Regions from separate parts of the Homo sapiens genome. Here regions 2, 3, 4 and 5 are each reported to be linked to region 1. The links are microRNA targets in miRTarBase. Many come from high-throughput screens and were not tested one by one. Region 1 holds a microRNA gene; each other region holds the end of a gene's coding sequence.

Evidence for each region. Region 1 holds the annotated microRNA hsa-miR-4287 (UCUCCCUUGAGGGCACUUU, at 3,206-3,224, shown strand). A microRNA usually pairs through its seed, bases 2 to 8, with sites in the 3' UTR of a target mRNA and lowers its output. Matches are read on the target gene's strand: a 7mer-m8 pairs with bases 2 to 8, a 7mer-A1 pairs with bases 2 to 7 and ends in A, and an 8mer does both.
Region 2: miRTarBase lists RNF20 as a target of hsa-miR-4287. The part of its 3' UTR that is shown has no 7-base or 8-base seed match.
Region 3: the mRNA of RNF146 is a reported target of hsa-miR-4287. The part of its 3' UTR that is shown has no 7-base or 8-base seed match.
Region 4: the mRNA of ZNF619 is a reported target of hsa-miR-4287. Seed matches in the 3' UTR shown: 8mer at 3,606-3,613.
Region 5: miRTarBase lists MED8 as a target of hsa-miR-4287. Seed matches in the 3' UTR shown: 7mer-A1 at 3,769-3,775.

What each region holds. Positions count from the first base shown.
Region 1 is chr8:27,884,208-27,889,311 of GRCh38, reverse strand. It overlaps MIR4287 (microRNA 4287), which reads left to right and starts at 3,196; the gene lies at 3,196-3,273. All of the region lies in intron 7 of SCARA5 (scavenger receptor class A member 5), which reads left to right.
Region 2 is chr9:101,562,016-101,567,119 of GRCh38, forward strand. RNF20 (ring finger protein 20) reads left to right here. Exons shown (of 20, transcript NM_019592.7): 20 at 231-1,329. The coding sequence ends at 407. Among named protein-coding and RNA genes, the nearest start is that of PPP3R2, 30 kb to the right of the region's middle.
Region 3 is chr6:127,286,731-127,291,834 of GRCh38, forward strand. RNF146 (ring finger protein 146) reads left to right here. Exons shown (of 3, transcript NM_001242850.2): 3 at 1-1,832. The coding sequence ends at 963. ECHDC1 (ethylmalonyl-CoA decarboxylase 1) reads right to left here. Exons shown (of 6, transcript NM_001002030.2): 6 at 1,982-3,547. The coding sequence ends at 3,139. Among named protein-coding and RNA genes, the nearest start is that of RNF146, 22 kb to the left of the region's middle. RefSeq lists a silencer at 4,067-4,126.
Region 4 is chr3:40,487,295-40,492,398 of GRCh38, forward strand. It overlaps ZNF619 (zinc finger protein 619), which reads left to right. Exons shown (of 5, transcript NM_001145093.4): 5 at 1-3,759. The coding sequence ends at 947. Among named protein-coding and RNA genes, the nearest start is that of ZNF619, 13 kb to the left of the region's middle.
Region 5 is chr1:43,380,467-43,385,570 of GRCh38, forward strand. It overlaps MED8 (mediator complex subunit 8), which reads right to left. Exons shown (of 7, transcript NM_201542.5): 7 at 3,451-4,640. The coding sequence ends at 4,576. MED8-AS1 (MED8 antisense RNA 1) reads left to right here and starts at 4,583. Exons shown (of 2, transcript XR_001738027.1): 1 at 4,583-4,675; 2 at 4,818-5,104.

The DNA.
Region 1 (5,104 bases):
TCACTCCAAGCACTAAGTAATGGGACATCTGTTGCCGACAACTAAGCTAATGGAAGTTGTTCCTAGTGATATCCTGAGAAAATGCTAAGATTCCTTGTCCAGACCCATGCCTTGATCTTCTCCATGACCTGGCCTCATCTGTGCCTCAGCTGTACCCTCTTTACTGGGGAACAAGCTCAAGCTTTGAGAGATTTGGGGCCTGTAGAAGGAGGGTGGCTGAGGACCATGGGGTTGGTCCCGGTGGGGCCTGGGTGAAGGGCAGGCTCAGTACAACAGGTTGAGGAATGGGGAGGCAGGTGCTGTGGTCTGGGGCTGCAGTGAGGCAGAGAGCTCCAAGCCGAGGCTGGAATTGACACTCCAGAAAAGTTGTGGGGTGAAACAATGAGCCCCTTGATCTGGGAGACAGCAAGGAGGCTACCCAGCCAGGAGCCAGTCTCCTGCCCTGTGTTCCCTCAAACCACTTTCCTCTCCTAGGGTTACACAGTGAAACCAGGCAGGGATGCTCTGGTCTGGGCTTTGAGGTGACAGCACTTTTCTCTTTCTGCTTCTCTGTATCAAAGGGAAGAACCTTGGTCACAGGGTGTTGATGGGGCTTGTAACCAAACCGAAGTGGGATCTTCTTGCCTGGCATGGTAAAGCCAAACATCCATACTGAAGTTGTGCAGTGGGAGGAAGCATGGTGTTTATTTGCAAGGCACCAAGCAAAGAAAATCTGGTAGCTCACACTTAAGACTCAACCTCCTGGATGGCTTACAAGCAAGGCTGTTTAAAGGCAATGGTAAATTTCAGGAGAGCAGAAGTTACAGGCAAATTTCTAAATCAAGACATGGATGTTATACATTGGTTTGGCCTAAAAAGGTGGGAAATCTGGAAGCAAGGGCTTACAGGTCATACATGGCTTCAAAGACTTTCTGATTTGCAATTGGTTAAGGAAGGGAAACTTTGTCTAAAAACTTGGGTTCAGCAGAAAGGAATATTAAGGTCTGGCCTGTGGATGTGACTTCTTCCAGGTCCTCAGAGCTAGCTAGGTGCCTGGAATTTTCCTTTATTCTGTGGCACTGGAGAATAAAGAATAAACACAATCATTAGCTGGGCATGGCAGCATGCACCCTGTAGTCCCAGCTACTTGGGAGGCTGAGGCGGGAGAGAATGGCTTGAGCCTGGGGGACAGAGGTTGTAGTGAGCCGAGATCATGCCACTGCACTCCAGCCTGGGTGACAGAGCCAGACCTTGTCTCAAAAAAAAAAGTCCGTCAATCAGAGTTCAGGCCTCAGTTTCCCCTCATTTGAGGTCTATATGCCAGCAAATCCATTTGGTTCTGGGTTTCTGAAAAACATCCAGCTGGGTTTCTGAAAAACACCTCAGGGACATATGTTAAGATGTTCTCTTTAGTTTCTATAGAGAGTCATCAGAGGTTGACTCTAACTTCTTTGACTATTGCTTTAAGCTACTATTTCTTTCTTTCTTACCAAGTTGCTCATTTACTTCTTGGGGCTAGCCTAGAATTTCCCTTGAAGATACTCAAGATTTTCTTTTATTTCCATGTTTGGGGGCCTAGCAGCCCCTAAGTCCCTGCTCCATCTCGGGCTTGTGGTCCCCAGTTCTGGGGAAGCAGGGAAAAGATGAACAGAGATGAGCCCTGTGGATATCTGGGTGTCTCTGCTATGGGGGGCAGGGGTGGGCATTACAAGAAAAAGCTCTGCCAAAGCCTTGTGGGATGGGGATTGGAATAAGCTGTCAAGAACAGCCTCTCCTTGTTTTTAGTAAGGAATAGCTCTTGGTGTTTCCCTTCAGCTTGGGTTTTCCAGCCAAGTGATGCTATGTGCCGGTGCCATTCCTGCACAGAGCTGGTAGGGACCAGCCTTGTAGCCAGTACCATCCTCTTAACTTGCAAACCATGAAGGCATGGACAGGTAGACCCCAGTCTGCAGGTTAGGGATCCAGAACAAGAGGAAAAGTGTGATAGTCTCTGCACCTAACGCCCTCACCTGAGGGGTGCAAATCAGATACCCACACGGGAGTGGTATGGGGCAGGGTTTTCTTCCGGGTTGCTGATCCTCATTTGCTCAGGAAGGGTTTTCCAGGGCTCAATGTGGTATGATGCCAAGGAGGAGGTGAAGGTGCCTCGCAGTCATTGAAGGGCAGTTACTAGGGGACGTGGCTGCAACCTCGAAAGCCTGGGGTCCCATTGCTCATCACCAGCTCTCTTGCCCTTTGCCCTCTACCTGGAGCATCTGCTCTTGCTTTGGAGCCTAGGAGTCTCTGAATTTCACACAATCAAGAATCCCTGTCTCCCATTTTCCTCCACTGCCACGTGCAGAGAGAGGCATCTCCCTGACTCCAGTAGCCCCGTTCCCCCTGCAGGGACCCTCCTGGGGGGCATCTGAGGAAAAAACTCCCTGGACTGACAGGAAGAGTCTTGGGGAAGTCACGGACCAGGCTGAGGCTGCCTCTCAGTCACCACTTCTGATTAAGTCGGGGCTGACACATTGTGGGGCAAGAGCATTTCCCAGTGGTGGTTGGTGGCTTGGTGGGAAAGCTTTGACCTGGGGCAGAAACTGCCGGGAAAAAGCAGCATTTAAACCCTCTGCCCACAGAAACCCAAACCTCTTAAATGATGACGTCCTTCTCAGGCTAGAGGGTAGTCACTGTTGGAGGGCGTTGGTGATTCCCCAAGTGTGTTGCTGGAGGTGGCCTCATTGCTCAGCTCTGGGAAAGGCTCCTGCCTGCCTGCCTCCCCTATACCTCTTCAGGGGTAAAGGAGGCCAGAGACACAAGTTTCTGAATTTAGACTCTGAGTTCCTGAATCAGGGCAGCCTACATCATAAGCAAGTCAGACCTCAGCCTGTGGTTTCCCAGAGAGGTGGTAACAGAGCTGAGATTTTGTTGGGTGGGGAGAAAAGGATGCAAAATCCACAGCTTAGGGCCATGCTCTGTGAAGTGGAGCTACAACAAAATGTGGCCTCTGATTTGGGTGAGTCCAGGGGAGAAGGTGTGGCTTTCAGATTTGTGTTGACCCTGCTGGGGCAGGCAGCATCTGTTGACCCTGTGGGCAGGCGGCCCTCCACCATGGGGGGAAGCCCTGAGTCTAGGGGATCTGGGGACAGGTGGTGAGGAACAGGCCTCCATGCTTAATGAACCGACACTGGGGTCTGGGTGGAGTGGTGCCTTGTGCAGCCTCGCCCAGGTGCTCTCTAGTTCTTTTTCTCCCTTGAGGGCACTTTTCAGTTCCTGAGATCAATGTGGTCCCTACTGGGGAGACCATAGGAGCCCTGCAGGCCATGACTTTGCTCAATGCATGGTAAGCATGGGCCATGGGCCAGAGACATCCTTGAAATTGATGCTTTGCATCCCGTGATTATGGTTATCATATGTTTTCAATTTTTTGAAGGTGTCTTGTTTCCAAATATTCTTCTATCACTTCTATATACATTGAAACCTCTTGGGAATTTCAGTATTTCAGCATCCAAATGACATTTTCCAGACTTCCCATTGCACCCACCATGATCATCTGACAGCCATGTCCCCATTCTCTCACTTGAGATGTACGGTCATTGTAACAGCCTGAGCTCTGGGTCCAGAATCCAGAGTCATCTCAAGTAGAGAAGGCAGCAAGTATGTGATTAGAAGTGTTGTGATGTAATAAAGAGGATGCTGGAGATTTGGGGCCCTGATGTTGGATTCTCCATTCAGGTTGCCACCAAAGCCCTGGACTCTGGGGAGCCATGCCCTCCAGCCAGCACCTGCCCATCTGGGTCCATATTAATGAGTCCCTCCATTCATGCATGCCTTCCCTTTGCACAGGCTGGGTATCTCAGTGCACCGGGCCCTGTACCAGGTCACGTGATCCTCAGAAGGCTCACAGTGTCCTAAGAGAGTAAATAGCAATAGCAATTATGACACAAAGCTATAAGCATGTACCTAGAAGGGGCCCTGTTGGGTGTGGGGACCAGGGAAGGAGAAGAGGCATCTAAGCTGAGATCTAAAAGACAAGGAAAGCTTAGGCCAGAGTACAGAAAGGAGTTTTCTGAGGTGGGGGAGTCCACGTCCTTCCTCAGCTCATTCAGGTCTCCACTCAAGGCCTTCCTTCTCTACTCGTCCAAAATGGCACCTGCTCTCACTCCCCACCCTCTTCCTTGTTCACTTGTCCAAGACAGTACCTGCCCTCTCATTCCCTCCCTTGTCCACCTGTCCAAGATGGTGCCTGCCCTCTCTCTCATTTCCTTCCTTGTCCACTCGGCCAAGATGGTGTCTGCCCTCTCTCTCATTTCCTTCCTTGTCCACCCGGCCAAGATGGTGCCTGCCCTGTCTCTCATTTCCTCCCTCCTCCACTTGTCCAAGATGGCGCCTGCCCTCACTCTCCACTCCTTTGTTCACTTGCCCACAATAGTGCCTGCCTCACTCTGTACTCCCTGTGCTTCTGTTCCCATCTATGCTCTTATCACCGCTTGGCTATAATTATGGTTTTGTTTTTGTTGACTAGCTGTATTGCTAGACTCTCCCTAGAATGTCAGCTCCATGAGGGCAGGGACTCTGTTTGTGGGTGTATCCACAGCTGTCTGATAGACTCTCAGTCACTTACTTGGCTAAACGAGTAGGTGCACAAAGTGAGTTCAGGCTGGCCAGAACAGAGAGGCTAAGTCAGGGAGTCTCCGACCGTCTACCTTGGCTGCCTAGTCACACCCAGTCACACTCTTCCTGTTGTTTTGACCCCACACCTGACTTCTGCCTGGCCTGCTCTGTGACTCACAGCACCCTCCTGCCACTTCTTGCCCTACTTGCTGACCCCACACTGTGGCTTCTGTTGCAGGCCTCCTGGTGCAGCCAGAGGTGAGGCAGGTCTGTGAGAAACCAGGGCTGACAGCCTGGCCTCAGCCAACCCAGGGCCAAGGCCCCGCGCAGCGGCCGGGTCCCTCTTGGTGCTGCTGGCTGCAGGTTAGCCTGTCCTTACTGCTCCCGGGGAGTTTCTTGGTGTCAGACCCAGCCTCTGAATTCCAGCTCTTCTCCATGTTTTTCTTCTCCAGGATCTCTCTGTTGTCTTGCATAGCCTCAGCCTGTTTGGGGACAGCCTGAATGAGTTTGTATTTGCAGTCTGTGTGGGGAG
Region 2 (5,104 bases), not on the chromosome of region 1:
GAAAAAATGCCTTAGTGATTAGTTTTTTGTCAAAGCTTTAAGTGGCCTAATAGACTGGGAGAATAATTTGCATGATAGTAACCAGAGAATGGTTTATTTTGGAGGTTGGGGGGAAATGATGCTCTTTTTTTAGTGCCTTGTGGGTTTTCTTCTTGGTTGTGTAGTATATGAGAGCCATTTGGATCATAAACTTTCATGGTTGTTCAAACTCTGACATCTTTTCTTTTTAGGCACGCTTGACCTGTCCGTGCTGTAACATGCGTAAAAAGGATGCTGTTCTTACTAAGTGTTTTCATGTCTTCTGCTTTGAGTGTGTGAAGACACGCTATGACACCCGCCAGCGCAAATGTCCCAAGTGTAATGCTGCTTTTGGTGCCAATGATTTTCATCGCATCTACATTGGTTGATCTAAGTCAAGAGAAGAAGAGGAGCTGGCTAGTCAGGAACTTATTCATTAACCACCAAACCTCTACCTCTTCTCTCCTTGACTGTCACCTGTAGGACAGTTTATCAGTCAACTACCTTTCCTCCAGACTTTACTTCCAGGCTCTCCTCTTCAGTAGCTGGATGACTTTAGCAGAAAGGACTGGTAAATACAAGCCTTGGGTTTCAGAATGAATTAGAAACAAATAACTCTTACTGTCTTCCCTCCCAGCTTTGTTTATTTTGTGCTTTTAGACTTTTCAGTGTTTTCTTTTTCCAGCCCACTGTATAAACTTGGATTGTCCATTCCTCCTGAAGAAATCAAGTTGGTATTTTTGATGTGGAAAAGGGAACAAAAGTGGAAACATGGCTACTTTTGGGGAGTGATATTTTAAAAAATAAGTTGTCTATGGGCACAAAGTTTTCTTCATTTGTGTAGCAAACTTCTTGTGAATGTGGATTACAAAATGGTATAATTGTGCTACTCTCCCCTGGGTGGTTTGCAGCCCTAATGAAATTATGTCTAGGATGATTCAGTCTATTTCCCATTTACTAGCAGAGTAACTTGTTAAGATCAGCTGGCTTTCTTGTTAAAGTTATTTAAGTTTTGAATGCTCTACTACTTCAAGTCTTTAAATTTCTTGAGACTAGAATAATTTTAAATAATATGACCCTTTGTCTTCTAATGAAATAAAGATTGAAGAGGTTGAGTCAGGACTGAGCTGGTGAAGAAATCTTGTGGGTATTCTGGAAATTTGATACGGAGAGAACTTGGTGAGCTATGAATTACTCTCAGTCTCCTTTTTACAGGGTTGTTGTGATCCCTCTTTTCCAGAAAATTCTGTGGAATGTTTCTGTAGGACTTTGTTCTCCACAAGCTTGAATTAAAGCAGGATTCAGTTTGCATTTGTGTTTATGGTTTTTCTTTGAAACTTTTGTCTTTATTATTACAAGTTGATTTTATATCTGCTGTTATAGAATTAAATTTTCTTGCATGGAAATAATCAGCTTAGGTTAAGAGGTTGGCCTTGTTTAGAGTATTTAGATCTTTGCTTAATTGAAGCACTTTTCTCCCAATTCTTTTATTGAGTCTATTCTATGGAGAAATTATACCTAAAAGATTAATTTATTTGACTACTCAGTTATCTTTCATAGTTCATTAGGTGGGGTAAGAGACTATAATTTGTTTTTTGGGGGAGCATATTGCTGCCTCTAGCTTTAGGGTGAGAGTTCTTGCATTATGTGGTGGGTTTTTTTTTTTTTTTTTTGAGATGGAGTTTTGCTCTTGTCGCCCAGGCTGGAGTGCAGTGGCACAATCTTGGCTTACTGCCACCTCCGCCTCCTGGGTCCAAGCAATTCTCCTGCCTCAGCCTCCCGAATAGCTGGGATTACAGGTGCTCACCACCATGTCCAGCTAATTTTTGTATTTTTAGCAGAGATGGGGTTTTACCATGTTGGCCAGGCTGGTCTCAAACTCCTGACTTCAGGTGATCCACCTTCCTTGGCCTCCCAAAGTGTTTTGATTACAGGTGTGAGCCACCATGCCCAGCTGCATTATGTTTTATAATAACCAGCAAACCAGAGGTTTCATAAATCTCTGGCAAGGGGTTGTGTAAAATGGATCCTTCTTGATCACCACCTGTCCTAGAAGACAGGTAAGAGCAAATTCTGTGTCTTTCTGTGGTCACCAGCTATAATCAGCAGGATTTGCACTGAATTCCACAAAGTCATGTGGTATGAATTAAGCAATGAGTCTAATTGAAGAATCTTACTAGGTCATCAAGAGAGGTCATGGGTCCCTTGATCCCCCTGCTCAGCAAACACCCCCACCCCCACAGAACCATCATGACAGGATTAGCTCCTGCTTCTGGACACAGTGAGTTTTCATTTAGTAATAGGACACTTTCCCCTTGCTTCTTGCTCTTCTTATAGGGTAAGCTTGAGCATAACTTTGTTGGTTGGGTGCAGATATACTGCTTGGTCAACAGGTGGTTTGGGCTTGGCTGTTGGCTGTTTGTGACAATTGGCTGAGAAAGCCAGCTGCCCAGCACCAGGGGACCATAGGGCCTGTGGAATGTTGTGGAGGAAACCACTAGCCCCATGGGAAGTTGGATTTAGAGGAAGTTCCTCTAGTTGAGATGAGCAGGGAGCCCCTGATCCCAACTGGCTTGAGGTCCTGGCAACACAAGTTGAGCTCTCACAGTCATTTTCAGATAACAACCAAAAATGATGGTGATTTTTTGGCAGTTGGCTTCTCTCACTACAGAAGAGGTCAATGAATGCGCTTTAGGAATACTCCCAAACTGCATACCAAATTTTATTTGTATTGTATGTACATTATTCATAGCTTTTTTGGATCCTAGTTAGCAATCACAGCCCTTGATCCATATGAACTTTAAAGGGTAATTTCTTTAAGGTAATGCTTATAAATGCCAATTTCAAAGATTATTATAGAAGTCCTAGAGGCTTCTCATTTCTTAAAAACACTTCAGGCTGGGTGCAGTGGCTCACGCCTATAATCCCAGCAGTTTGGGAGGCTGAGACAGGAGGATTGCTTGAGCCCAGGAGTTTGAGACCAGCCCAGGCAACATAGGGAGACCCCGTCTCTACAAAAAATTTCGAAAATTAGCTGGCTGTGGTGGTGCACACCTGTAGTCCCAGCTACTTGGGAGACTGCAGCGGGAGGATAGCTTGAGCACCGGAGGTTAAGGCTGCTGTGAGCTGTGATTATGCCATGGACTCCAGCCTGGGTGACACAGTGAGACCCTGTCTCAAAAACAAACAACAACCATTTCAGATTTTGTAGGGATGGTCTCTCTCTCTCTTTTTTCTTTCTTTCATTGTTACCTTGGAAATTTCTTAGTGACTTTGACCAAAGTCAGGTGTGCTCTGAGGCATGCATAACTACATGGCTTGGATCTTACCTTCTTACTTACTATAGGGATCTTTTTCAAAGGTATTGAGCTGTTTCTGCAATTGTTTTCTTACATGAATTTCCATTGCAATTCCTTTTCCTTTTTCTCTGTCCAGATCCGTAGGCTTCCTTGTTCTTCAAGGGCCGGAATTTGATGCACATAGTTTAATGTACATGCCACTAGAGTGATGACTGTGATTTGATTTTGTGAAGATTCTAGACAATAAATAATCATCAGTCTTCTAAACCTACTAGGATGGTGATGCTTACACTTGCCGGAAGCATATGCTACTCTCATCTTTATTCCCATTGTCATTTGCTAGGATGTGGAATGCCGTTACATATTGTTCTTTGAAGATTTATCTGAGGACTGCCAGATAAACCCATGTCCCAGTGGATCTGCAGAAAAGTTTTGATTAGTCATTATTGCAGAAGTCTGCTTTTCTGATGTTAAGACAGATACACTGAGATTAGTAGAAAAATGGTGGATTATGTGTAGGTTGGATTGGGTTTGCACAATAGGAAACCCATGACATAGAAATACTTACAAATTTTCTAGATCTTAAAGTTTGGAAATACTTAAAAGTGGTCCTATCAGAAAGAATGAGCTTTACCTTCTGGGATTCCTGCCCATGTTTGGTCTGTTCCAAATGTTAGCTATTAAGGTCTTACTTATAGCCTACTTCACAATTACTAAAGGACATGAAAAGGACAATGTCTTAACAGTCTAATCCCTAATATCTAGCAGAGGCACATAGTAGTCAGTAAAGTTTTTCATGATTAAATTAATTCTGCTTCATGGTTCTGCTGCCAGATCTTCCGAAGTCTGCTTTACTGGGCCAATGTGTGATTCAAACCTTATTACTCTTTCTTTTTTTCACCCCCTAAGTAGAAACAATCTTTCCCCATATATCGAAGTAACCCTTCAAATTTGTATTATCCAAAAATATATGACTACAGTTTTAATTTATTTTGTGGCAATAAAAGGAATTATTATGAATTCTAAAACTAACACTTCTGTAGTGGCAGCTCATGAGACTGCTGAGTCTCATGTAGCTGAGACTTCACTTACTGCAAGGCACACATGATAACCACTACGCTACGGAAACCTGCATAAAAGCTTCATTTATTGTAAGTTAACCTTTTTTTTTTTTGAGGGAAGCTATGTTCACATTAATATAATAATAATATGCTCTGAGGATATTAGAGCTGAAAGGGAACTCAGACCATGTCCTTATTTTAGAAGTGAGGAAATAGGTTCCAGGGCCACTCAGGTTAGCCACAGGATTGAAATGCTACTATGAGAACTCCATTGTTCTTTTATCCCAATCGGAGACCTGTACTAATAGAGTACATGTCATCAGGTAGACAATAAGTGAAAATACTTTCTGAGTCATTTTGAAGTCTTCTAAAGACTTACATATACCTACTATACTTATCCTTGATCATTCTAATCTAACTAGACTCTTTGCCAGGCCCTGGATTAGAACTACATTTTGTTTCTGAATTCACTGAGTTCCTTTAGCACCTTGTTGTAGAGTAGAATTGAATCAAGGGATCTTAGATTTCTTCCTGCTCTCCCAATCATATGCATTTGCTGAGTGCTTATTGTGATTCCAGGCATTGTGTTAAATATATTTCTCATGAAGTCCGACTTGCCTGCGTATGGTGCTGCTACTTATTAGCAAGTTACTTCATGTCTCTATGCTTCAGTTTCTTCATCTATAAAATAATAACTACATCATAGGGTTATATGGAGGATGAAAT
Region 3 (5,104 bases), not on the chromosome of region 1:
TGTCTGCAAACATGTGTTCATCCAGTCAGTCTGCCCTGTAAGCACGTTTTCTGCTATCTATGTGTAAAAGGAGCTTCATGGCTTGGAAAGCGGTGTGCTCTTTGTCGACAAGAAATTCCCGAGGATTTCCTTGACAAGCCAACCTTGTTGTCACCAGAAGAACTCAAGGCAGCAAGTAGAGGAAATGGTGAATATGCATGGTATTATGAAGGAAGAAATGGGTGGTGGCAGTACGATGAGCGCACTAGTAGAGAGCTGGAAGATGCTTTTTCCAAAGGTAAAAAGAACACTGAAATGTTAATTGCTGGCTTTCTGTATGTCGCTGATCTTGAAAACATGGTTCAATATAGGAGAAATGAACATGGACGTCGCAGGAAGATTAAGCGAGATATAATAGATATACCAAAGAAGGGAGTAGCTGGACTTAGGCTAGACTGTGATGCTAATACCGTAAACCTAGCAAGAGAGAGCTCTGCTGACGGAGCGGACAGTGTATCAGCACAGAGTGGAGCTTCTGTTCAGCCCCTAGTGTCTTCTGTAAGGCCCCTAACATCAGTAGATGGTCAGTTAACAAGCCCTGCAACACCATCCCCTGATGCAAGCACTTCTCTGGAAGACTCTTTTGCTCATTTACAACTCAGTGGAGACAACACAGCTGAAAGGAGTCATAGGGGAGAAGGAGAAGAAGATCATGAATCACCATCTTCAGGCAGGGTACCAGCACCAGACACCTCCATTGAAGAAACTGAATCAGATGCCAGTAGTGATAGTGAGGATGTATCTGCAGTTGTTGCACAGCACTCCTTGACCCAACAGAGACTTTTGGTTTCTAATGCAAACCAGACAGTACCCGATCGATCAGATCGATCGGGAACTGATCGATCAGTAGCAGGGGGTGGAACAGTGAGTGTCAGTGTCAGATCTAGAAGGCCTGATGGACAGTGCACAGTAACTGAAGTTTAAATAAAAATGTCTTCAGCTCCATGCTCAAGGTTGAAAGGGTTACCTGTAAATTTCTGCCCACATAACATTATACTCATCCCTAGTAGTGCATTTTGGGAGTTGGGGTGGGAAGGGGTATGGGAAGGATAGACTCATAATTAAAATGTCTAACATGTCTCTGTTGAGAAATTTATTTAATGTAAGGAACTTGGGTGTTAATAGTTGAGAGCTGTTTAGTAATAACCCAGTTTTCTTGAGGTCTGTTTACTTTATACTTTTTAAAAACTTCTGTAGTTCTTTTGGCCAGTGTGTTTGTATTATCTGTGCATTAATGGTCCTCATCTGACTCCTGCATTGTGTCTTATTTTTCTGCATGGATTGGCATAAGACCATTACTAAAATTTGGCACCTGTGAGATGTTTGATATTATGAACAGGAAACATAATTTAATGTATGAATAGATGTGAATTTGGGATTTCAAAATAGATGAATAACAACTATTTTATAGTAAAGTTATTGAAATGGAAATGAAAACAGCCAGTAACTTATGTTTCAGAATGTTTGTAACACACTTCATGGTGTTCCCATAGGCTTTGCTGTCTAGTCTTATAGTTTGAGGTTTTTTTGGTCTGCATTTTTCTTTTTGATTACAAAATTTATAATTTAATAAATACTAGAGTTTATCAAAAACAGTTTGTCTCTTGTTTGAGGGTGGAAAGGGTGTGGAAACATTTTGACATTTGTGACCAAAGGTCACTTAAAAAGTGGTGGTTTTAATTGGTTGTTTTCAGCTTAATCACCTGCTCAGAAAAGTTTGATTTTTTTCTTAGAGATTATTTAAACAGAATCTATAGGCAGTGTGTATATAATAAACATGTATGGAAATAAAACTAAAGCCTGTGAGACTTAAAATTCCTCAAATAGCATATACCGTTAATATTTTATATTTTCCTTACCATATTCATTAGTAGTCTAACACTCTGGATTAAATGGCAGACTTAACGGTGTTAGCAGACATGAATTCACTTTACACAAAATGTTGTAGACCACAAAATCCACTTTTATTTGGTAGTTTTTACATCTATGGCCAAATAGTATTGGGTTGACACAGTAATCTAGAGTTTACCTCTGAAAAAAAGTAATGTGAGTCTGTCTAACCATATTTTCCTAACTCAACAGTAGGATCATGATGGTAAGGCAAATGCAAGTTATTTTTACCATGATTCTCAAATGTGAATTGAATGTTACAGTAGCAAATACTTTTGACCTCTTGTGATGAGTCAGAACTAGAACTTAATTCTTTGACTTTCACATTTTTTAAAAAGTGTATTGCTGGGATCATAAACATTTTATGTTGTGCATTTTTATTACATTTACTTTTGAAAGATAGTTGTTAGAAGGTTAGTTGTTTTTCAGGAAAAAAAAGAAATCTGATGTAAAAATGCAAATTTATGTTGCAGGATGCTTCATGAGTCCCTTCAAGTGGTTTAAAACTACATCAACAGTAGTTGTTTATTACTAGTTGGAAATTCCAGGGCACACAAATGAATGTCCAATTGTAGAATCAGTTGACTTTCCATGTCATGGCTACCACTGTTTAGTAGGTAATTTACAATAGAAAACTAATTATTGAAAAGAACAAAGTTCCAAATTTGTAGTGGGTAGTGAGGTACATCTTTTTTTAAATGAAGGGCCATTTCCCATGAATTTTACTCCAGCTGTTTGGAGCAGAAGAAAATGATTGATCATACCCTTTCTTGTTTTCTTGTTCCCTGATACCTCCCCACTTTTGTTCTTTAGCAGCAACACTCAGTTATTTTGGTAAATTATTTCCAGGTAAAACAGAACAAAAATTGTATGAAAAGTAACGCCAGGAATAGGTTTTGTATAGAAGCTCTCCTTTTAAACACTGCTCTTTGGTTATAAGCTAAGAATTATTATTGGAATTGACAGCAATAATTTTTAAGCCAAAAGTGTATATTTTAGCTAAATGTTCCAGATTACGCAGTAAATACCCAAGTGAGTAATTGGCAAGAAATGAGGTAAATGAGTTCAGATATTCAAATGATTAAAAGTAAGTCTGCATATTAATAGTAGCCTTCAAAGTAATTCTGATGTTCATATTTAATATCATTTAACATTTATACATATTAGTCACTGGAGCTTTACTTGGAGTACATCCACACGAAAAACCAATTATTTATTAAATTTTCCTTTCTTAGCAATAGCCTCTAAATTTGCAGGCCCACCCCAAACTGTTCCTAAAAGATCTCTTTCGTTCTGTAATGCTTCCTCCAAATATAGCTCTCTGCCTGAACAAACAGATTTTTTCAAAGCTCTAATTACTTCCGGTGGCCCTTGGATGAATTGCTTTAGCCATTCTTGTGCCTCTTCTAGAGATTTAGTTTCATCTGAAGACTGCAAGACCTCTTCAACCATTCCTATGTTTAGAGCATTTTTTGAATCCAGTTTAAGGGCCCCACTCAACACTTTGAGAGCTTGTCTACTTCCGATTATTTCAACTAGCCGGGTGGTGCCACCCCAGCTTGGTATTATGCCCATCTCTTTGTGGACGAATCTGATCTTACTCTCTGGAGTCATTAACCTGTAAAAGAAAAAAGAAAAGCTTAATTGTAACTCTCTCTGTATGCTCTAATCATAAAGTACTATCCATTCATGATCTGATGTGAATTCTCCATAGATCTTTATAGGTAGGTATATTAAAAACAATGTTTGAAAAATATGGCTGTTTCATCTAGAATTTAATTTACTAATAGTATTTAAAACTTCCCTTTGAAAACAGTATCATTTTTTGTTGTGCTTGTTTACCCTTTGCAAACAAGAACCTTCTAAAAGCCCAAAGTTGATCTTTCTTAAGTGAGTGGTGACCTAATGAGAGGATGTGGATCAAGTGAAAGTATGGGAGTAGGAAATGTTAGGTGCATACTAAGAAAAACAAACCGAAAAGCATAGTAAGTTAAGGTTCTCAAAAGTCCTTAGTGGGGAAAAATGCTTTTTAAATACAGCATCTATTCAGCAAGTATTTACAAAGAACTACCAGTGCCAGGTGGTGGTTTAGGTGCTGAGACTACAGGAATGACCAAAACAAAACCCTTGTGCTCAGGAGCTGTTTTCAGTTTGGAGAGAAAGGCATTAAACCATATAAAGTCAGTGGCAATGAGTGCTTTATAGCAAAAAGAGAAAAAGAAAATGAGGCAGGAGACAAATGAATTGAGGATATGTGTGCTGGGGGTGTGCTATTTTCGATGAAGAAGGACACTGAATATTTGAGCAGCCACCTGAGGAAATGAGCAATGCAAAAATCTGGGAAAAGATGTTCCAGGAAGAAGGAATTGCAAGTGCAAAAGTCTTGAAGTAGAGAACTGCTTAGTATCTCTGGGGACGAGTACAGTGTAACTGGAACATGGGGGATAAAATGAGAAGCATACTTAACAGGCCTTAGTAAGGAGTTCGGATTTTATTTTTTAAGTGTAAAGTTATTTAGAGGAGGTCAACCAAAGCATTAACATCTGACATTTTACAAGGGCTGCTCTAGTTGCCATGTGCATGAAGAGCTTATTTAGCATTTCAAAGCTCTTATACCTTTTTTTTTTTTTTTTTTTAAGGAACTGGCAATACAGCTATTGCAGAGCTAGGATTTAAACCCAGGCAGGTTGGCTTCAGTTATCTTCATGGTACACATAATAGCTAGACGAGGTGGAAGCAGGGATACCAGTAAGAAAGTTATTGATAGTGGCTTGGATTAGACTGATAGCAGTGAGTTTCCCTAACGGGTTCATTTTCCCCAGTCATGGGATTTTTATGAATAGGATGATTAATAAGAAAGTATAACAATAAAGGGGAGTTAACATTTGCCAGTTCAACAGACTGAGTAAAGCTACACGATTTAGCTTTACTAAATAAACGCCCATGCGTTTTATTTTGACTGCATGCTTCAAGAAGCTTTCACTTTCAAATTACTCATTACAAAAAAGAAGACCTTAAGTTGGGTTGGCTTTCCAACGTGTTAAATACTCAAATGCAGGTGATTTGGTTCTATTAGCACTAAGAACAAAAAACTCAGTCTTTGACCCGAGAGAATTCTGACAAATGCCAACTTATTAACTCACTGGGAAACTTTCTCTTCACAGCTGTGAATTTC
Region 4 (5,104 bases), not on the chromosome of region 1:
GTGAGGAATGTGGACAAGCCTTCAGTCAAAATTCCCACCTTCTTCAGCATCAGAAGCTCCATGGTGGACAGAGGCCCTATGAATGTACTGACTGTGGTAAAACCTTCAGTTATAATTCAAAACTGATTCGGCATCAGAGAATCCATACTGGGGAGAAGCCCTTTAAATGTAAGGAATGTGGGAAAGCCTTCAGTTGTAGCTATGACTGCATCATCCATGAACGAATTCACAATGGGGAGAAGCCCTATGAATGTAAGGAGTGTGGGAAGAGTTTGAGTTCTAATTCAGTTCTGATTCAGCATCAGAGAATCCACACTGGGGAGAAACCTTATGAATGTAAAGAGTGTGGCAAGGCCTTCCACCGCAGTTCGGTATTTCTTCAGCACCAGAGGTTCCACACTGGGGAACAACTCTACAAATGTAATGAATGTTGGAAAACTTTCAGCTGTAGCTCCCGCTTCATAGTGCATCAGAGAATCCACAATGGGGAGAAACCCTATGAATGCCAGGAATGTGGGAAGACATTCAGTCAAAAGATCACTCTGGTTCAGCATCAGCGAGTTCACACTGGGGAGAAACCTTATGAGTGTAAGGAGTGCGGGAAAGCCTTCAGATGGAATGCAAGTTTCATCCAGCATCAGAAGTGGCATACTAGGAAGAAACTCATCAATGGAACAGGGCTATCCGCAGTTAAGCCCTACTGTCCCTGCGCCATCCTCTCTCCTCTGCCTCCCCAACATACCTGCTCTGCCCTAGCCCCACCAGGGCCTCCCTTATCTTCTTCACATGCAGTGGTACTTCCTCCCTCTGTGCCTTTCTTCCTGCTGCTTCCCTCATCTGAAAAGGCCAACCCTTCACCTGTCCAAATAGCACATTTTTTTCAGGATCTCGCTTTTCCTGGGAAGTCATCCCTTCAGAGCCCGAATCCTTTGTCTCACTCCCTGTAAGCCCCGTCACGTTCTCAAAATCCTTTGCACCTCAAGTTAGGGATTCCACTGGTCTCCTGATTGTGTCTATTGATATTCCTCTGGTCTTGTCTTGTATAAGTTGTTACTGTTTTCCTAACTTCATTTTAAATTCTCACGCTTAAGGACCATGTTTGATTAGTTTCTTTTATCCCCCGGTAGGAAATGGCAGTACTTATTCTTTATCGTGTCCACATTTGGGCTGTATTATCAGTCTGCATCTCTCTTCTGGGGCTACTGGAGTTGGAAGAGTTTGCAGAACATTTTGGGGTTTAGGGCATATGGCATTATGATTATGATGAGATGGGGCATTATAATTAGAGACTAGGAGAAATGCAAAGCCTATGGGAGAACATAATCAGATAAAGTGTCCAATGATTGCTTTCAAGAGCTTTTTTTTTTTTAGGGGGTGGGGGGTGGTGCCGGAGTTTCACTCTTGTCACCCAGGCTGTTTGCAGTGGTGTGATCTTGGCTCACTGCAACCTCTGCCTCCAGGGTTCAAGTGATTCTCATGCCTCAGCCTCCCGAGTAGCTGGGACCACAGGCATGCACCACCACGCCCCGCTAATTTTGTATTTTTAGTAGAGACAGGGTTTCACCATGTTGGCCAGGCTGGTCTCAAAATCCTGACCTCAGGTGATTCACCTGCCTCAGTCTCCCAAGTGCTGGGATTACAGGCATGAGCCACTGCATCTGGCCTGCTTTCAGGAGTTAAGGAGGGCCATTTGGTGGACCAGGGGCAAGGCTCACTGAAAGAATGTAAGACTTGGAATTTTTTATTACCTTGATAGTATAAAAAATTATGAGGGTCCTTTTATGCAAAAAGAAAATGAAGTGATGAGTTGGCATTGATAGCAATAATGTAAAATTATGTCTTTGAGCTTTATTGGAAGGGGATATGGTTTTTCAATTTGGGTTCCTTCTCTATTTTCATTTTCCTTTTTTTTTTGAGACAGGTTCTTGTTCTGTCATCCAGGCTGGATTGCAGTAGTGCGATCATGGATCACTGCAGTGTGTTGACCTTCCAGGCTCAAGCAATCCTCCCACCTCAGCTTCCCAAGAAGCTGGGAGGTAGTGCAGCCTCCCAGTTTCTCAGAGGGCTGAGGTGGGAGGATTGCTTGAGCCCTGGGGGCATACACCACCACACCCAGCTAATTTTTGTATTTTTTGTAGAGACAGAGTTTTGCCATGTTGCCCAGGCTGGTCTCAAAACTCCTGGACTCAAATGATCCTCCCACTTCAGCCTCCCAAAGTGCTGGGATTACAGGCTTGAGCCACCATGTCCAGCCTCTATTCCTTTTCATATCTGTTGAATTTCAGTACCCACTCATATATGTAGGTACAAAAAGTGACTTGGACTTGTACCCTTTAGGGTAGATGCCTGAGTATAGTAATCTCTAAAGCTGTACATGGATGGAACTTGTTGGCATCACACTGGTGAGCACCAGAGGCAAAGAAGAGAAACCTGACCATGACTTGCTGTAGTTTCTCAGAAGTGAGTCCATTCCTGATGAGTTACTATGCAGGCCCTTGGATATGTCCTCACACCTACTCCAGATTTCCCTATGATTAAATCTGAATTTTATTGGTGGCACTTTTAAATTAGTTTTATAAAGAACTGTTTTGATGACACCAAGAAATGTTTTCAGTGTGCAGATTGCTATTGTTTGAATATCCCCAGCAAAATTCTTGTTGAAACTTAATCCCCATTGTAACAGTACTGGGTGGGGGGTCTTTAAGAGGTGATCAGGATTAGCCAAGTTCATCAGGGTGGAGCCTCCATGATGGGACTGGTGGCTTTATGAGGAGAGGAAGAGCAACTGGAACTGGGACACATGCTTGCTCTGTCTTGCCTTTTGATGCCTCCTGCCATGTCATGATGCAGCAAGTAAGCCCTTACCAGATGCCTGCACCTTTATATTGGACTTCTTAGCCTTCAGAACTGTGAACTAAATAAACCTCTATTCTGTATAAATTACCCAGTCTATGGTATTCAGTTAGAGCCACACAAAATGTAACAAGACAGAATATTGATAGCCATAAGTAGGTTTGCTGCTCTGACATTTACATAAAAATGTAGAAGTGGCTTTGGAACTGAGTAATGGGTAGAGGCTTGAAAAATCTGGAAGATCAGGTCAGACAAAGCCTGTATTATCTAATGGAGCATTAAGGGTGATTTTGGCCAAGGCTTAGAAGAGAAGACTAGGGAAAGTCTGAACCTTCTTAGAGATTACAGGAGGTCCTTGAACAACTTGGGTTTCAACTGTGTGGGTCCACTTATGGACTTTCTTCTGCCTCTGTCACCCCTGAGATGGCAAGACCAGTCTCCCTCCTCTCCCCTTCTCAGCCTGCTTAACAAAATGACAAGGATACAGACCTTTATGATGATCCATATAATATAGTGAATTATATTTACTAAATATAATTTCTCTTATGATTTTCTTAATATTTTCTCTAGCTTTATTATAAGAATATAGTGTCTAATATGTATAACATAAAAAATATGTGTTAATCGACTGTTTCAGTAAGGCTCTGGTCAACAGTAGACTATTAGTAGTTACATTTTTGGGGAGTTAAAAGTTATACATGGCATGGGGGTTGGTGCCCATATGATGGGACTGATGGCTTTATAAGAAGAGGAAGGGAGACCTGAGCTGACATGCATGCTCTTGCCATCTTGCCATGTGATGCTTTCCATCATGTTATGACACAGCAAGAAGGCCAGATACGGCCCCTCCACAGTTCCCAGCCCTCGGAACCATGAGCTAAATAAACTTCTTTTCTTTATAAATTACCCAATCTGTGATATTCTGTTATAGTAACAGAAAACAGACTGACACTGATCTTACCAGACATTATGATCTCACTGGTTTGGCCTACTGCCTAGAGACTGACCCTTCTCAGAATCACTGCTTCAGGGCAGTATAACAACATGCAAAGGTTTATTTATTTATTTATTATTTTTTGAGACGAAGTTTCACTCTTGTTGCCCAGGCTGGAGTGCAATGGCGCGATCTTGGCTCACCACAACCTTTGCCTCCCAGGTTCAAGTAATTCTCCTGCCTCAGCCTCCCGAGTAGCTGGGACTACAGGCATGCGCCACCATGCCTGGCTAATTTTGTATTTTTAGTAGAGATGGGGTTTCTCCATGTTGGTCAGGCTGGTCTCAAACTCCTGACGTCAGGTAAGCTGCCCGCCTCAGCCTCCCAAAGTGCTGGGATTACAGGCATGAGCCACCGCGCCCGGCCACAAAGGTTTTTTAAAAAAACCTTTGTTTTTTAAAAAACTACATTTTTAAAAAAACCTTTGTGGCCGGGCGCGGTGGCTCATGCCTGTAATCCCAGCACTTAATGTAAAAAAACAAACTGTGAAAAATATTTCAGAGACGTTTAACCTGAGCCAATGTGAAGTGACCGTGGCCTGGAGAAAACACAAACCCAGGAAACCTTGAGTAAGTAGTCCTGAGGCAGTCAGAATGTAACTCTGTTTTATGCATTTCAGGGAAGCAGAAGCTACACAAAAAGCCATCAATCAATACATGGAGGTTATACATTGGTTTGGTCCCAAAAGGCAAGATATCTTGAAGCAGAGGAATACAGGTCATAGGTGGGTTCAGAGAGTCTTTTTTTTCTTTTTTTGAGACAGAGTCTTGCTTTGTTGCCCAGGCTGGAATGCAGTGGTGCAATTGAGTTGAGACGGCGTTTCACCATGTTGGCCGGGCCTGTCTTGAACTCCCGAACTCAAGTGATCCACCCGCCCCAGCCTCCCAAAGTGCTGGGATTACAGGCGTGTGCTAAGATTACATGCGTGAGCCACCGTGCGGGGCCAGAGATTATTTAATTTGTAATTGTTTAGAAGAACAAAGTGTGGTCTAAGAACTTGGAGTTACCAGAAAGGAATGTTTAAGTTAAGGAAGTTTGTAGCCAGGTGTGGTGGCTCACACCTGTAATCCCAATACTTTGGGAGGCCAAGGTAGGAGTATCACTTGAAATCAGGAGTTCAAGACCAGCCTGGGCAACATAGGAAAACTGTGTTTCTACTAAAAATAATTTTTTAAAATTTAATTTAATTTAAAAAAGGATAATGTTACGCATCATATGATGCTATGCTAGAGTTGAGTTGTGAGACCAAGCCACTAT
Region 5 (5,104 bases), not on the chromosome of region 1:
CCCAAACACAGGGGTTGAAAAGTGAATGGGAGGTAAAAGAAACAGTGATTCTAAGCACTTTGTTTCAAGAGCATGGCGCGAGTGAGTCAGTGAGAGGGGATGTAGGGTTAAGAAGGATCTTTTAACATGGAAGAGACACTAAAATGGCACTATCTAAGGCCATGAAATGTAGCCCAGAGAAACTGGCAAAAAGAATGAAGGATAGACTGGGTGTGGTGGCTCACACCTGTAATCCCAGCACTTTGGGAGGCTGAGGTGGGAGGATCGCTTGAGCTCAGGAGTTTGAGACCAGCCAGGGCAACATAGAGACCCTGTCTCCATTAAAAATAATAATAATTTAAAAATTAGCTGGGCATGGTGGCACATGCCTGTGGTCCCAGCTACTTGGGAGGCTGAGAGGTGGGAGGATCACTTGAGCCTAGAGGACCACCTGAGTTGCAGGATCACAGTGAGAGGTGATTGTGCCACTGCACTCAAGCCTGGATGACAGAGTGAGACCCTGTCTCAAAAAAAAAAAAAAAAATGAACAAAGGATATCTACGTAGGGAATGTGGGCAAGAAAAGATGAAGAATCAAAATGACCACAAACTAGGGAAATTAGGGTGAGAATTAGGGAAAGCAGTGGAATGGCAGAGAAAACATAGGAAGACGAGCATCCCAAGGCACTTATATTTGATTCAGTAGGAAAGGTTATCTTCATGTGGAAGAAGTATAATTTATTGCCTATACTGGAGGAGTCTCTTTGGTACATGTATCTTGCCCAAGGAGAGAGAGATGTGTGAGGGGGAGGGCGACTTCTAACACACAAGGTATGTCAGAACTTGTAACTTGTGATAACTTTGTGGTAACTTACCATCTCTTTGATGAATCTTCACTTAGAGAAAGATGTTTTAGAAAACAGTTTCAAGGTTGTGGTCTACAAGGGTGTTGGTATGTTAAGGTGTAGGTGACAGCGAGGGAACTTCAGGAACAGTTTATAGGAGTCTGAGGGACTTGGGGGCTTATCTAGGAAAATTTTGGCCTATTTATGTAACAGTCATGCACCAAGGAAAACAAAACAAAACAAAATGCCTGGGGATAAATGGGTTTGAAAATCATTGCCACAGACTTTAGACCTAAAAAGGATCACTGGGATCACCAAGTGAGAAAACTGAGGCTTAGGGAAGTGAGATGCCTTGTCCACGATGTACTTAGGGAAGCTGCCATGTCCAAATGGCATGTGACTCATTGAGAGACCACAACAGGAACCCAAGAGCTGCCTCAGTGACACATGGAGCTCAAAAAAAAAGAGAAGTTAAAGGGAAGAAGAAAGGAACTTTGTCTTGTGGGACAAAACACATGCTGAAGTGATGGGGCACCATGGTCCCATCAGATGCGTTGGAGTTTGCCTTCTGTTCCAATCATAAAGCCCCATCTGCACAGTGGCAAGCCCTTTCCAAGGGTTAGTCCCCATGTGTTTGAGGTTTCCAGGCAAGAGCCACATCGAGCCTCCATAAGCAGGCACTGTGAACCCTCAAGACTGAACAGAAAAGGACCACATCCCCTGTTCCTACTCCTGGCCCAATGCTAAACTTCAGTAGGCTATTCCCCTAATTCTGGAGCAGATAGGAAAGGCAGATGGAAGAGAATGTACACTCCTTCGTAGTTCATCTGGACAGTAATCAGGAGCTGACCCAGGGTGGGCGTTTGGAAGGACTCAGCCTCCGTCCTGCCTGGTGCTGGGATCAGCTTACACAGCTCCTGTGTCCACAGGGCACAGAGAATACATTGTCCATAAGGAGGATTATTCTGTACAAGAAGCTCAGACAAAGGGAGAGGTTGTTTCCAGCTGCCTGGGGGAGGTGAGAGGGGGGTGGGAAAAGGGACCAGCCTTGCACTGGGGCATTCCTGCAGAGTTCAGCTTCTTCTCTGTGGCAGCACAACAGGAGGTGGGCAATTACACCCCCTCCAGCTCAATCCTAATGCTGGGACCCATTATGGAGTTCTAAGGAGCACTTGGCTACAACCTATCTATCTTGGCTGTTTCCCAAAAAACGACAGGGTTGAATGAGGTACACCAGCTAAGTAGGGCAGCAATAAACACCAGAAGGGGAACAGAATGGGGTGACTGGCACAATGAGCAAAAGAGAGGTTCAGCAATGACTGAATCCCAGGCTCAGGGCAGAGCTGGAGAGGGAGAGATCCTAGGCAATGGGCCTTATGCTGACATTGATTGGATAAGCTTCCGCCTTCAGCAGGATGAACTCTGTCCTGTAGTAAGCTCTTGACGTTTCACAGCTGCTGCTTCTTTCTCCATCCTAGACACAAACCTAGGAGACAATGGCCTAATCTCTTTCTCCAGGGGACCCAAGAATAGGAGAAAGCACGATCTCCAAGCAAAACAGGACAGTCAAAAACAGAGGAATGTTACCAGAGTAGGCCAATAGTCACCTTTTGCAAATCCTAAATCTGAGCCAGTAAATAGGTCATGTCCCCTTCTTCAAAGGAAAACTGTATATGTATTCCCTCCTGAGGGAATGAGTATGTTAGGGGTGGGAGATACATACTCTCTATTGAGGCATTTAATAGGCTGTATGGACCCCAAAGTGGGAGACACTACTGAGATTTGTGTACTCCAGATGATTTGAGGATGGGGGATAAAAACGACAGCATGTGCTCCTACGGTGATGAATGTAGAGGAGTCCCTCTAGAGGAAGGAGTGTTTGCTTAGGGGAACAAGATGTAGGTGACATCCTGCATATGTTCCTGTTGGGGCAAGAGGATATTTCCATTCTTGGATGACAAGGAATCCATTTTAATAGTATGGTGGGGATGAAGTCAGTATTTGCCTGGGACACAAAAAAACTTGGGGTTGGTGCCATTCAATAGGAGGGAATCTTTTGGTGGAGTAAAGGACAATAGTCACCAAAAGATGCTCCAGGAATTTCAGAGAAGCACAGCTCAAACTCTACCCAATATGCCAGTTAATACTGACATTTCCAGTGGGAAGGGAAGAGGTGAGAAGATAACACCTGAGTGGGCTGATGAGCCGGAACAGTTTAAGTGGGGGAAAGGTCTGGCATTGCCTTAGAGCTGGTGACCAGACTCCCCTACTGCTATGTATTGTGGTCAGTGAGCTTTGTGGATACCATTCCTCACCTTGATGGAATGGTAACAGATGTGACATCTGGGACCACTTTTCCAGTCCTTTGCTGCCACAGCCTGGCAGAACTTTGTTTGGCACTGAACAAATGCCAAAGTACCAGTGTGTGACAGAACAGAAAAAAGGCAGCTGGAAGGTATGAGCAGGAGGGAAGTTTCAGGATTTTTAGATCAAAGCTAATTAAAGATACGGAAACTTTTTTATGGAGAACAAATTAGAACTGCCTTGCAGCACTCTTGAAACTGCCCCTCTGATCCCTATGTAGTGCTCTCATAAATTACTGTCAGACAACCCTGAGCCAGTGAACATCAATTTAAATAACTTTATTCAGAGGAATCCTTTGGTCCACTTCTGCTGACTCAACCCCTGCCCATGCCAACAAAGGAGTACTAAGAAAGGCAGGTTAGCCTGAATGTCTAAATTCAATTTGTTCAACTTTATAAAAGCAGGCAAAGCTACTGGGGGTTGCCCCCTCCCACCATCATTCTGGTCCACCATTTGGGCCACAGGCTTAGGGAAATGAAGGAAAGTCGTTTTCTTTGAAGGAAATCCTGGCCAAAGTCGAGAAAGTGGGCACCATTATGAGGTCAACTAAACCCTGATGGCAGTGTGAAGTGCAATTCCCTTCTCCCTCCAAAATAAGAAACATGAATCCAGGGGAAGGGGCTTTTTCGTGTGCTAAGGAAAAACCCTTTCCCACATAGTCCTGCCTGGCAGAGCCACTTCCTGAGAAAGCCTCGTGTGTATAAGGTGGGGTAAAGGATAGGGGACTTTATGACTATTTGACAGGTAAAAGCCAAGTTGGCTCCTTAGAGGATGGAAAGGAGAGCAGGCCCAAGCTTCACCAGAGCTGCAGGTGGGCATTTTTTTTTCCTTCCTGGCCCAGAAGCTTCTTCACCTTGCGCCTTAGAGGGATAGCCAGAATGAAACCCAGGCAGGAGGGCCTGCAAAAACAGTGTGCCTCTAAGAACACAGAGGTTGCTACAGTTTCTGGCAGCACAAAATAAGCATAGCCTTATTTGATCTTGTGTCCATCAGCTCACCATTGACGTGAGGCAGTATCAGATTAGGGTAAGTTCTGGATCAAGGACTGTGGAGGGTGGTGGGGAGAAGGATCTGTAGAAACTATCATTTATTGAATACCCATTATTTCATATACTGTACTAAGTGCTTTACATTCATTTCCTCATTTTAATCCTCACAACAACCCTATGAGGTAGGTATTATCACCATTTACAAATGAGAAACAGGCTCAGAAAAATTAGGTCACTTGTCCAAGGTCACACAGCTAGTCAGTGGTGGAAGTGGGATTTGTCTGCTGCTGAAAGCCCATGTTCTTTTTATTGTACCCATCTAGGTGAGCCTTGAGCAAAAGGTAATTTCACTGCCCAACTCTGCAAAGAGCACCAGGGAGTCGAGGTTGCCAGCCACACTCACCGCTGGTAGGGATGCATGGAAGCCGACTTGATGTTGGTTTTTATTCCACTTGGCATTTTCCCTGAAAGGAACATTAAAAAAGTCATCTTAAGCAAGGTAAGACTTTCATGACAAATCAGAAATGTGGTACCTCAGGTTCCCTCTGTCACTTCCTTTATCATCTCAGAACCTCTGCGGCATCTGACCCTGTTTGACAGAGGTCAGAAGTATGATTCTTCACCCAGCTGTCTCCCTGAAGGTGTCCAGGAGGAAAGAAGTGACATGGGAGAATAGTCTGTTCATCCACTCCTAGAACAGATAGCTAAACCTGTGTGACTCCCATTTAACGTCACAGGTAAAAGAGTACTATGTTCTCTCATTGTTTTTCTTTTTTTATATCATAATAAGTGCAGAATCTCTCTTTAATTGTCCCTTTTCCTAGACAGCTTGGAGGAAATAACTCTTCTAGCTGCCTGCATCTAGACTGTTCTAAAAATGAGTAGGAGAGAAGGCAGGAAGCCAAGAGCAAGAGAGGCAGGATACAGA